Regions from separate parts of the Homo sapiens genome. Here regions 1 and 3 are each linked to region 2. Evidence: fine-mapped expression QTL. A gene starts in region 2. Each other region holds a variant in brackets. All regions are shown on one strand. Distances are from middle to middle.

What was found. PIP is the estimated chance that this variant, and not a neighbour inherited with it, causes the effect.
Region 1: its variant is the best candidate, but not a certain one, in a credible set for the expression of MTAP in lung (TOPMed, PIP 0.69).
Region 3: its variant is the best candidate, but not a certain one, in a credible set for the expression of MTAP in prefrontal cortex (GTEx, PIP 0.86).

The regions. Positions count from the first base shown.
Region 1 is chr9:21,824,587-21,828,830 of GRCh38, forward strand. All of the region lies in intron 4 of MTAP (methylthioadenosine phosphorylase), which reads left to right. Among named protein-coding and RNA genes, the nearest start is that of MTAP, 24 kb to the left of the region's middle. The variant G/A (reference allele first, on the strand shown) is at 1,953.
Region 2 is chr9:21,800,325-21,804,568 of GRCh38, forward strand. It overlaps MTAP (methylthioadenosine phosphorylase), which reads left to right and starts at 2,312. Exons shown (of 8, transcript NM_002451.4): 1 at 2,312-2,457. The coding sequence starts at 2,425. RefSeq lists enhancers at 1,191-1,821, 1,822-2,450, 2,945-3,154 and a silencer at 2,495-2,654.
Region 3 is chr9:21,899,024-21,903,267 of GRCh38, forward strand. It overlaps a transcript of MTAP not described here. Among named protein-coding and RNA genes, the nearest start is that of CDKN2A-AS1, 66 kb to the right of the region's middle. The variant A/G (reference allele first, on the strand shown) is at 1,955.

The DNA of each region.
Region 1 (4,244 bases), 24 kb after region 2:
CTCAAACTCTGTGCTGGGAGAACCACTACTCTCTTCAAAGCTGTCAGACAGGGACATTTAAGTCTGCAGAGGTTTCTGCTGCCTTTTGTTTGGCTATGCCCTGCCCCCAGAGTTGGAGTCTACAGAGGCAGGCAGGCCTCCTTGAGCTGTGGTGGGCTCCACCCAGTTAGAGCTTCCCAGCCACTTTGTTTACCTACTCAAGCCTCAGCAGTGGTGGGCGCCCATCCCCCAGCCTTGCCGCCGCCTTGCAGTTTGATCTCAGGCTGCTGTGCTAGCAATAAGCGAGGCTCTGTGGGCGTGGGACCCTCCGAGCTATGCACGGGATATAATCTCCTGGTGTGCCGTTTGCTAAGACAGTTGGAAAAGCACAGTATTAGGGTGGCAGTGACCCGATTTTCCAGGTGCCGTCTGTCACCCCTTCCCTTTGCTAGGAAAGGGAATTCCTTGACCCCTTACGCTTCCTAGGTGAGGCGATGCCTCACCCTGCTTTGGCTCACACTCGATGGGCTGCACCCGCTCTCCGGCACCCACTGTCCGACAAGCCCCAGTGAGATGAACCCGGTACCTAAGTTGGAAATACAGAAATCACCTGTCTTCTGCATTGCTCATGCTGGGAGCTGTAGACTGGAGCTGTTCCTATTAGGCCATCTTGGAACCGCCTCTCCCACATTTTCTTTATCTGTTCATCTGTTGATGGACGTTTATGTTGCTTCCATATCTTGGCTATTGTGAATAATGCTGCAGGGACCATGGAAGTGCTGATGTCTTTCTTGACGTAAAATTTCATTTCCTTATACACTCTGAGATGGGATTCTTGGATCATGTGGTAGTTGATATTTTCAGTTTTTTGGGGAATTTTAGTAATGGCTGTATTAATTTATATTCCTACCAGCAGTATACAAGGGTTCTGTTTTTGTCACATCCTCATCAACACTTACTTTGTTTTGTCATTTTGATAATGGCCATTGTGGCCTGGCACAGTGGTTCACGCCTGTAATCCTAGCACTTTGAGAGGTTGAAGCAAGAGGATTGCTTGAGCCCAGAAGTTTGAGACCAGCTTGGGCAACATAGTGAGACCTTGTCTCTGTAAAAAATAAAACAAAAATTAGCCATGTGTGTTGATATACAGCCATTGTCCCAGATACTTAAGAGACTGAGGTGGGAGAATCGCTTGAGCCTGGGAGGTCAAGGCTAGAATGATTCATGAATGCACCACTACACTCCAGCCTGGGTGACAGCAAAAAAGCCATTCAGGTGTGAGGTGATATCTTATTGTGGTTTTTATTTGCATTTTCTTGATGATTAGTGATGTTGAGCATTTTTCATACAGCTGTTGTCCATTTATGTGTCTTCTTTTGAGGAATGTCTATTCAAGTCCTTTGCCTATTTTTTTAATCAGGTTGTGTTTTTAGAACTTTCTTTCATTTAGTTTCCTTACGTATTTTGGGTATTAACCCCTTATCCGAGGTATGGTTTGTAAACATTTTTTTCCTATCTATAGGCTGTCTCTTTATATTATGGGAATTTTTAAACATATACACAAAAGAATAATAATCAGGGACTCTCTAAGTTCCTAATTCCTAGCTTCAAGAGAACATTTTCTTTTTTTTTTTTTTTAAAGAGAGTATAAATTAGTATTTCCTTAGTATTAGATATCTAGGAAGTTCTCTCTATTGTCTCATGAACTTTTTTTTTAATAGTTGGTTTGTTCAAATAAGGGTCCACTCATTACACACATAAGCTTAATAAGCCTTCTAGTCTGGAAGATTCCACCTTCTTTTTTCCTTTTCCTTTTACTGCCTATCCACATTCTGGATGTTACTAATTGTATCAAGTGTCATTTAGTGTCTTCTCCCGGCCCCTGTGTTTGCTATAAACTGGATTTAGTTCTGGTGGCCTGATCAGAACCAGGTTTGAATTCTTGGCAAGGATCCTTCCTTCTGCATCCTGTC[G/A]GAAGGCATGTGATGTCCAGTTGTCCCTTCATAATGCGATCGATCAGGTGCCAGAGGTGCTGGGGTTTTGTTTATTATTATTATTATTATTATTATTATTATTATTATTATTTAACTGCACAAGTAATATATATTGTTCCTTTACCCCCCCAAAAAAACAACAATAATAGACTGCCAAATTTTTGGACCTTTTCTGCATTTAGAGGTAGTTGAAATCACAAGGGAAAGTGGTGGTCTCTAGGTCAGGGATCCCCCACCCCTGTGGCTTGTTAGGAACCGGGCTGCACAGAAGAAGGTGAGCCGTGGGGCGAGAGCGAGCATTACCACCTGAGCTCCCCATCCTGTCAGATCAGCAGCAGCATTAGAGTCTCATAGGAGCAGGAACCCAATTGTGAACTGCACGTGGAAGGGATCTGTGTTGTGCACTCCTTATGAAAATCTAACTAATGCCTGATGATCTGAGGTGGAAGAGTTTCATCCTGAAACCATCCCCTCTGACCCTCTCTGTGGAAAAATTATCTTCCATGAAATCAGTCCCCGGTGCCAAAAAGATTAGGGGCAGCTGTACTAGGGCCACCCCCTCCCCTATTCCTGGTAGAAATAATTGCCTCTCAGAATGCTCTGGGTGAAGACAGGAGCCTCCTGGGCTGGATGGAGAGTGGAGAGTAGCGCAGAGTTAAATCATTTGGGGATCCTTCCACAATCCCCCATCCAATCACCCTGCCTACCACCTCAGTCCATGCTGCTCCTCCCATCAGTTATCTCTGAGCTTACTGTACTCACAGCCTGCTCCTAGAGCTTCTGCTATGGGAGAGAGGGTTGTCCAGTCCAGGCCACTGTGGCTTCTGCCTTTCAGGGATTCATTATAATTTCCAGTCTATCAGAAGCATTCTTGGTTGTTTCCTGATGGAATGAAACTGTTTTGAAATTGCCCATTCTGTAGGTCAGAAATGGTTGAATATCAGCAGTTTCATGTGGTTCAACCTAATAAATAATGGGGTTAGACTAAAATGGTTACATATTTCTCACCCCAAGTTATGTCCTTATAATGTATTTATACCTGACATTATATATTTGTGACCTGTTTCCCTCTAAGCCATGTGAGATCAAAGTCACTTTCTGCCCAGTTTGCACCATATCACCAACACCCACAACAGTTCCTGGCCCATCTTTGCTCTGTCAGTAATTTTTGAGGGCTTGAACATAGTCATTTGAATAGAGAGATAGGCTGGAGTTTGTGTTTTGGAGACATCTTGATCAAAATCTCAATGGCTGTCAACGTCCATGTGTTTGGAGGTAATAGTTTAAGAAAATGATTATAATATGATTGCTAAATAGAGTGGAATACAAAACTCCATATTCAGGATGATCCAGATGTATAAAGTATTACAGATGATACTGTAAAGTCTGAATTGGGCACTGAGCCTTGGGTTAATCTGTTACTTAAACAGTATGACTATACGCTGTTGCATTTCCCAGATCTTTTACTCACATGTCTTAAATGTAGATGTTTCACATACTGGCTCTTTCAAGAAAGCAGTTGGGTCAGAAGATGGAGACTAGAAAGAAAACAGGTATTGCCATCAGATCTGGTTTCATTCTATCTTAGCCAGGTAACCTTAAGATCTTCTACTATTTTTCTGTTTATGAGACATATGGATAACCTGCCCTCTTAATGTTTCCTTGGAAGTTCAAAGTCTCTAATAAGTGCCTTTTGTGGGATCTTGCATGTGTTAACCTTCTCAGTAACTGAGTGCCATTATTGAGAGTGTGTGCATACTGGCTGGAGGGTCCACTAGTTGACACTACTTTACAACAACAGGAGGAAAGAATCTGTTAAAAGAAGGATCCCTGGCAGGGTGCAGTGGCTCACGCCTGTAATCCCAACATTTTGGGAGGCTGAGGCAGGCAGATCACCTGAGGTCAGGAGTTCGAGACCAGCCTGGTCAACATGGTGAAACCCCGTCTTTACTAAAAATACAAAAAAAAAGTAGCCAGGTGTGGTGAGCACCTGTAATCCCAGCTACTCGGAAGGCTGAGGCAGGAGAATTGCTTGAACCCAGGAGGCAGAGGTTACAGTGAACCGAGATTGCTCCATTGCACTCCAGCCTAGGCAACAAGAGTGAAACTCCATCTCAAAAAAAAAGAAGGATCCCTAAGAGAATATAATTTAGCATGAAATCTCAATTTTTACATTGATTACTTATTTGGGGTGATAACGTTTTGAATATATTAGGTTAGACAAGATTTTAAAGTTAATTTTACCTGTTTCTCTTTTACTTTTTCAGTGAC
Region 2 (4,244 bases):
AGAGATTATCAAAAAGGGAGAAGCTGTTGGAATCCTTATACTGTTTCATAATCAGAATTGTTGTAAGGTGACCTAGTTCTTGATAATTATCTTTAGAAAAGCAAGGGTACAGGTTAACAGAGGGGGATTTATAGGATAAGAACAGAAGGGCAGGGCAAAATCTATGTTCACAAATAGACCGACTCTCCTTGTCTTGTTGACATAGTAATCAAAAAGGGAGACCACTGAAAATTTTTGCGTATTCAAAATTATTGAAAATTTTGTCTTCCTTTTATTTTAGGGCTTGTTAAGAAAAAACATGACCCAAAATTTGGAAATAAGGCAAAAATATTACTGCCTACCTTTTCAAAGATACTGCACTAAAGAAAGCACTGTCCCACAGGACTGCCCAAGGGTTATCCAAGTCTGGGTAGCAAGGGGTCGTCTGATTCAGGCACTACCCTGAGCGGAAAACAATGGCCCAAGACCTCGACCAAACCCAGCTCTCCACCTGTTTTTGTACAGCTTTGAACTGAGAATGCTTTTTTACAATCTTAAGTGGTTGAGAAAATATCAAAAGTAGAATAATATTTTGTCACATGTAAGTTTACATGAAATTCAAACTTTAGAAGAATTTCCTCTTCACAGACATCACATCTTCAAGAGCAAATGCTTGAGCCCTAACCTGCAAGTTATAGTAGAAAAGTCCAGAAGTCCAGCCTGGTCCTCGCCAAGTTTCCAACTCCTATGCCTAGGGGTATTTTATGCTTACAGGATCTAACTTGGTTACAACGTCTAACTTTTAGCAGAGAGGCAGTGCTGAGTAGAAACTGGACTTGTTAACCATATCAAGTCACTTAAGTTGGCTAGGATCCCCTACTTAGGTAGCGGCCATAAAGCCTAGGGCATCCCTGTGCCCTCAATGGTTCACTTCTGAGTGGTGGGCTTCCTGCTCCTCAATAGAGCAATCGGCAGAAAGGCCCCTAGAAAGCTACATTGTCTTCATCCGCGAAGGATTCCCTGTCTCCTATTCCTCAAAGGAGCACCCGGATTCTACTTTCATTCTTCTTTTGCCATTGCATTTTATAACTTAAAAGAAATAGATGATTGTAACAGAAGAAAGAAAACTTTACATTGTGAGAAAATTTAGACCTAAAGCTTATAGTAATGTGAGGACGAAAGTCTATACTGTTTAAGTAAATAGGTTCTATGAGCAGCATCCAGGCTAACATCACACAGTGGTATTTTGAATTAAATTGTACTTGTGTTTTGTTTCCGTGTTTTGCTGCTGTAAGGAAAGAGGAAAGCATCCCCTTTCTCGGCCCTCCTCCCACGTCCAGGCTAATTTGCAGCATTTCTACATCTCAGAGTCCACCCTTAAGATCCTTGCCACCCATTATTTTGTTTCAGAACGCTTAATCCATCAAGGAAGGTTAAATTGGATTACCCCAGTAGGGAAGGGACGGGGGCTGTAAGCATGAGGGATTATCCCTGTAAAGGGCTCGTGGTGTGTGTGTGTGTGCGTCCTGCTAGTGTTGAATGACGGAGACCTGAGTTTGGATTCTGAATCCAGGTGTATTCGATGCCGCTCCGGCGTAGAACGGGTTAAAGATGCCCCCAGCCAGGTAGAGCCAGACTGGGAGTTGTGCAAGGTCTCAACCCCCTAAAAGCGGCCCCTCAAATTGAAGATGAGTAAATCATAGTTCGTAAATCAGAAAGATTATCCAGTACTACGTTACTCTGTTTATTTCCCTTTCGTCATCCCTGAGTCTTGGGTCAAGTCCATCCCAGCTCTGTCCTCCAGGAATCAAGGGAAATACGCAAACCCGCGGTGGGTTCGCAGCCGCAGGAAGGACAAATCTTGCCCCCGCCGCGGCGGCCGCCCCGCGTTAGCTGCCTAAGAGAATCTCCGTGGCCGGCCAGTACCCGCCTTGGTGAGGATTCTCCCTCCCGCGAGAACTTCTGGAATGCCGCCGGGCCAGATTTTGCAGCTGAGGCCTCCGACGCCACTAATATTGGGCCAAGCAGGGAGTGCTGCTCTTCCTTATAAGGTTTTAGCGAAAGTTAAGTAAGCCAATTAAAGTGCAAAACACACAGTCTGGAACAATACAGCGCTCTATAAATGGTCTCCATTATTATCATTATCCGTTAGTTATAACTGGGGATAAAAAAAAAAAAAAAACGACAAAAACCTGGAGAACCGGAAAGGTCTGCAAAAGGGGCGGAACGCGGGAACTTCGATTTGGGGAAGGGGTGGCGGGGGAGATCCCACACAAGCAGCCAATCCAGCTGTCCCGGGGAGGAAGAGGAGGAGTCAAGGCCCGCCCCTGGTCTCCGCACTGCTCACTCCCGCGCAGTGAGGTTGGCACAGCCACCGCTCTGTGGCTCGCTTGGTTCCCTTAGTCCCGAGCGCTCGCCCACTGCAGATTCCTTTCCCGTGCAGACATGGCCTCTGGCACCACCACCACCGCCGTGAAGGTGAGATGAGCCCTCCCAGCCGCAGCGGTTCGCCCTGCCGGATGCCTTCTCGCCCCCGCGCCGGGGGACCGCGCCTCCGGGGGCCATGCGCCCGGCCCGTGCGTCCCTTGCCGCCGCGGGGAGGGACTGGGGCGCGGCACTCGGGACTCACTTGCCGCGCGAGGAGAGGGTACGCTTGCAAATGATCCCCCTGCCGCACCGCCAACACACACACACACACACACACACACACACACACACACACACACACACACACCACCTTTTGGCTTATCTGCACCCGCACCCTGTAGGGCGTAGGCACCCCTTTAGAGAGAGAGGTCGTGGATGGGAGAGGCTGCACCCATGCCACCACCATTCCTGAGAACCACTCTTCTTCCAAGAAAGACACCCGGCTGGAGTCAGGAGGTGTCCGGGCGCCTGCAGCTTCTGTGACCGTCTCCTGGTGCCTTGCGGGACTCCAGCTTCCGCTCTCTGACTCTGCTTGTTGCCTGCGGCCCACGTGGGAGAACTGCTTACTTGCTCTTTTGTATGCTTCCGGCTTCTTTTTCCTCCAAACGTAGGCCTTCTCCGCGCTGAAGTTTTCCCCAGCAGCGTAATACTGTAAGAATTCTGAGACTTTCTTCGAAAAGGAGTACAGGCGTCCGTTTTTAGGGCTGCACTGTTTGGAGGCCTCTGGCTTGAAACTGCTTTGTTTTGCAGCCTTGCAAGTTAGAGTTCAATTTCCTTGTGCCCTAGGCCCTGAGAGGCCTTGATACAAGGGGTCATTGTGCGGTGGGAAGCTTTGTGCTGAGGAGGGCACGAGTTCTGAGAGTAGCAGCTGGCTTCCCTGGGGTTTTAAACACTTCTCTCCTGGTTAGTATTCCGAGAGAGAATTACAGCACGTAAAGAAAAATTGATGATAAAACTTAAGACCTCTTCTAGGCAGTTTATTACTGGCTAAGAATGCGTTCTTGTTTGATTTTTAGAAATTTTTGGCCTATGGGATAGGAAGGTCTGCGATCTTCTCCAAAGCATCTCGATTCCCTACACTCGACTGCAGTTTTCCCGGGAGAAGGCGAATTTCTGCGGTCAGTGTGTAATCAGCCAGATTAGTTTATTACGCCCTTGCAGGTTTAAATGAGCCACTTAGAATGAGAGGAATGGTGAAGGGTGTTGCATCCAGACTTATATATGAAACTTATTTTGTCATTTTGAAAAGAATCTTGCATCCAGCAAATATTTATAGAAGGCCTCTCCCCTGCCTTCATTGTTTGGCGGAAACAAGGCAGAAATGGTTTTCATGAAACTCGTGTGAAGTATGTGACTTCTCTTAGGTGCTCATCTATAAACTGAGAATTTTACTGCAGAATTTGCTAGGAGGGCTAGAATTATATTGTCTATGTTGCACATGGTAGAAGCTTATTAAGTGGTAGTGCTTATAAGTGGGGGAACTGAGATTAATTTTGAATGATCTTTTCCCCAAAAATTATTAAGTTATTGTGTTAGGTATCATTAGGCCACAACTTTTCACCTTATCCTTGCAGGAATACACTTCAAGCGCCATTAAAAATGGAGAAATGGTGTTTAAAACAGTCTTACTTTAATCTGGTTAGCATTCTCCCTGCCACAGGGTTTCCCTTCAAATTAATGCAGTGCATTTAAGTGCAGAATGGGCAATGGGATTCTCAGAGACCTGATGTAAATATTGAATAGTGTGTATTTTTGGTCTTGGCAAGCTTCTGGATATAAAATTAAGAGGTACATATGGTGCTAGGACTGCCTGCTGATTTCTCTTTTAATTTAGAACA
Region 3 (4,244 bases), 99 kb after region 2:
ACATATACACCATGGAATACTATGCAGCCATAAAAAAGGATGAGTTCATGTCCTTTGTAGGGACATGGATGAAGCTGGAAACCATCATTCTCAGCAAACTATCCCAAGGACAGAAAACCAAACACTGCATGTTCTCACTCATAGGTGAGAATTGAATAATGAGAACACCTGGACACAGGAAGGGGAACATCACACACCGGGGCCTGTTGTGGGGTGGGGGGAGGGGGGAGGGATAGCATTAGAAGATATACCTAATGTAAATGACAAGTTAACGGGTGCAGCACACCAACATGGCACATGTATACATATGTAACAAACTTGCACGTTGTGCATATGTACCGCATAACTTAAAGTACAATAATGGAAGGAAGGAAGGAGAAGGGGAAGGGGAAGGGGAAGGAGGGGAGGGAAGGAAGGAAAGGAAAGGAAGGAAGGAAAAGAAAGAACTGCCCAAGATTGGGTAATTTATAAAGGAGAGAGGTTCAGTTGACTCACAGTTCAGCATGGCTGGGGAGGCCTCAGGAAACTTACAGTCATGGTGGAAGGTGAACGGGAAGCAAGACACCTTCTTTACAGGGTGGCAGGACAGAGTGAGTGCAAGCAGGGTACATGCCAGATGCTTATAAAACCATCAGATCTTGTGAGACTCACTCATTGTCATGAGAACAACATGGGGAAACCACCCCCATCCAATTATCTCCACCTGGTCCCGCCCTTGACACGTGGGTATTATGCAGATTACAATTCAAGGTGAGATTTGGATGGGAACACAGAGCCAAACCATATCAGTACTGGTACAAAAACAGAAACACAAATCAATGGAACAGAGTAGAGAACCCAGAAATAAAGCTGCACACCTACAATCATCTGATCTTTGACAAAGTTGACAAAAACAAGCAATGGGGAAAGGACTCCCTATTCAATAAATGGTGCTGGGATAACTGGCTAGCCATATACAGAAGACTGAAACTGGACCCCTTCCTTATACCATATACAAAAATCAACTCAGGATGCATTAAACACTTAAATGTAAAACCTAGAACTATAAAAACCCTAGAAGAAAACCTAGGAAATACCATTCTAGACATAGGCCTTGGCAAATATATCATCAGGAAGACTCCAAAAGCAATTGCAACAAGAACAAAAATTGACAAGTGGGACCTAATTAAACTAAAGATCTTCTGCACAGCAAAAGAAACTATAAACAGATTAAACAGACAACCTACAGAATGGGAGAAAATATTTGTAAGCTATGCAACTGACTCTAATATCCAGAATCTATAAGGAACTTAAACAAATTAACAAGGAAAAAAATTTAAAAATGGGCAAACGAAATGAACAGACACTTTTCCAAAGAAGATGTACATGCAGCCAACAAGCATATGACAAAAATGCTCAACATCACTAATAATTAAACAAATACAAATCAAAGCCACAATGAAATACCATATCACACCAGTCAGAATGGCTACTATTAAAAAGCCAAAAATATCAGAAGCTGGTGAGATTGCAGGGAAAATGGGACACTAATACACTGCTGGTGGGAATGTAAATTAGTTCAGCCACTGTGGAAAGCGGTTTGGAGATTTCTCAAAGGATTTAAAAACAAAACTACCATTCAACCCAGCAATCCCATTACTGGGTATATACCCAAACGAATATAAACTGTTCAACCATAAAGACTCATGCATGCTTATGTTCATCACAGCACTATTCACAATAGCAAAGACATGGAATCAACCTTGATGCCCATCAACAGTGGACTGGGTAAAGAAAAAGAGGTAAATATACATCACGCAATACTATGCAGCCATGAGAAAGAACAAAATAATGTCTTTTGCAGCAGCATGGATGTAGCTGGAGACTATTATCCTAAGTAAACTAACGCAAGAACAGAAAACCAAATACCTCATATTCTCACTTATAAGTAGAAGCTAAACACTGAGTACACATG[A/G]ACACAAAGAAGGGAACAACTGATGCCAAGGCCCACCTAAGGATGCAGAGTGAGAGGAGAGTTAGGATTGAAAAACTACCTCTTAGGTACTATGCTTATTACCTGGGTGATGGAATAATCTGTATACCAAACTCCATGACATACAGTTTACCATTGTAACACACCTGCACAGGCATCCCTAAAACAAAACTTGTAAAGAAAATACCAAAATACACATTGACAAAAGAAAAAGAAGATACTAAAGACAACCTAAATAAAGAGAGGTCTTCATAGATGGAAAGGCTCAATGTTACAAAAATGTTAGTTCTCCTTAATATAAACTATCCAATACAATTCCAGTTTAAAAAATTGAAGAGTTGAGCCTTTTAAATTTTTTTAGTATTCATAACAAAAACAATTTTAAGTTTAATAGCACAGGAGGAAAAGTAATGAAGCTTGAAAATTAAAAGGGATACAGAATCCTAATGACACTTTGATTGACTATCTCATAAAGAATCAGACATCAGGCACAGAAAATTGCCACATTTTAGATTCTTGGCTACTTGCATTTTGCTAGTTTTTCATATGATTATTAACTATAAAACCTATAAACGAGCTTTTATTAGGAATCAAAGAAAGGGAATAAAGGACTAGGGAGGATACCTCAACCTCCTTTGCCAGGTGTATGGAGTTTTTAAAAAAGGTTAGTAGCAGCTATAAGGGCAAAGGAAAACAACTGAGTCTCAGGGGTTTGCCACAAGGAGGAAATGAGGTTATGAGGAACCCACATGGGCCTGGAGAAGCTTGTGACATTTTCTCATAGGCTATTTACAGCCAATGCCATCACAATACAAATAAATTTAAAACAGTGAAGAAAAACAGAAGTAAGCTAGTTTTACTGATTGTAGAGATTACTCTGTGTGCTATGATCAAGTTCCAAATTTGTTTGAGTTTTCTAGCTGCTAGAAATAACAAAAAGGAAAATATGACAAATGTTACAGTGTTCAAAAGTAGAAATGAGGCAACATGTTAAGTCCACATGAAATCCCTAAGTAGAATGTATGAGAAATAGCTTTCAGTCTGGGTTCCTACAGGCAAGGAACAGGTGCCATCTCCAGCTGAGTCAAGCAAAAGAGTAATTCGCTAAACGATATTGCAATAGCTCACAAAATCTACTAGGAAGAACTGAAGTAGAGGCTCAAGGCTAAGCCACTAGGAAAGACACACTGAAGCATGTTTTAGAATTGGTCTGGAGATAAAACAGCTTCCTCCAGTTCCACAGATACTACCATTTCCACCTGCTAAGCTAGTGTCCCTTCAAACCCTTGTTTCCTGTAGCTCATGAGTCAGATCCCATCTGGTAGCATTTAGTTCAGAGTCTTAAGTCGCATGCCTATGCCCTACCTGCAAAAGAGGAAGGAAAAGTAAGCATCTGGTATTTTTAGCTCCTATAATGGATCATCCACACTTAGCACATGTCTGTAATACTATGAATTCCCCAAACATAAAAACTAGTTATACTGGTACACAACCAAAACAACATGACAAATGTGACAATAACCATACACCATCCACTTTCAAGTTTTCTACATAACCAGTGAAGTCAATCCTTAGAGGGACTTAAATTAAGATTACAAATTGTTACTTGTTCCCTTATGAACTTTCTGACCTAAGTATTCTCAATCCAATAATGTAGTTATAATCCTGCATTTATTTACTGTTTTCATCAGGGTTTTTAATACATCCATATATGTAACTTTCTTGGATCAATTTAACTTGGTCTAGGTTATTCTTGGATCTACCAGAACAGAACCCAGAATGCCTGGAGGTGTGGATAGAATAGAAAATCTCTTTTATTACCTTTAAGGGCTGTTAAACAAAACTGAATTCACCAGTTACAAAAGCAAATGATTAAGGTAAGAACAGAAATATCAACACATTATGCTTGTTTACTTTAAAATGAAACTATCTTCTATATAAATAAAAACTGAAATTCCCACCAAAATGTAAAGAATTTAAAAGGTAAATTGTAAACATTATAAAAAGGCATTGTGGAAAAGATGAATTCAACTAAATGTGCAGCTATCTGAAAATGAGGCTGTGTTGTCTTCTCCTTAAGTATAGTGATTACAAATGAGGAAGGAGGATTGGAGGATTTCCGGCTGCTTTCTGTAGCATTGAATGGGGCCTGCTTTGTTAGATGACTTCAATTGCAGGATATTTCAGAAGGTGGATACATGGACTATACTATATTTAGACTCCAGCTGCCAGTGAGTCTGGGGGAGGCATACTTAGGCTTGCTGCAAAACGA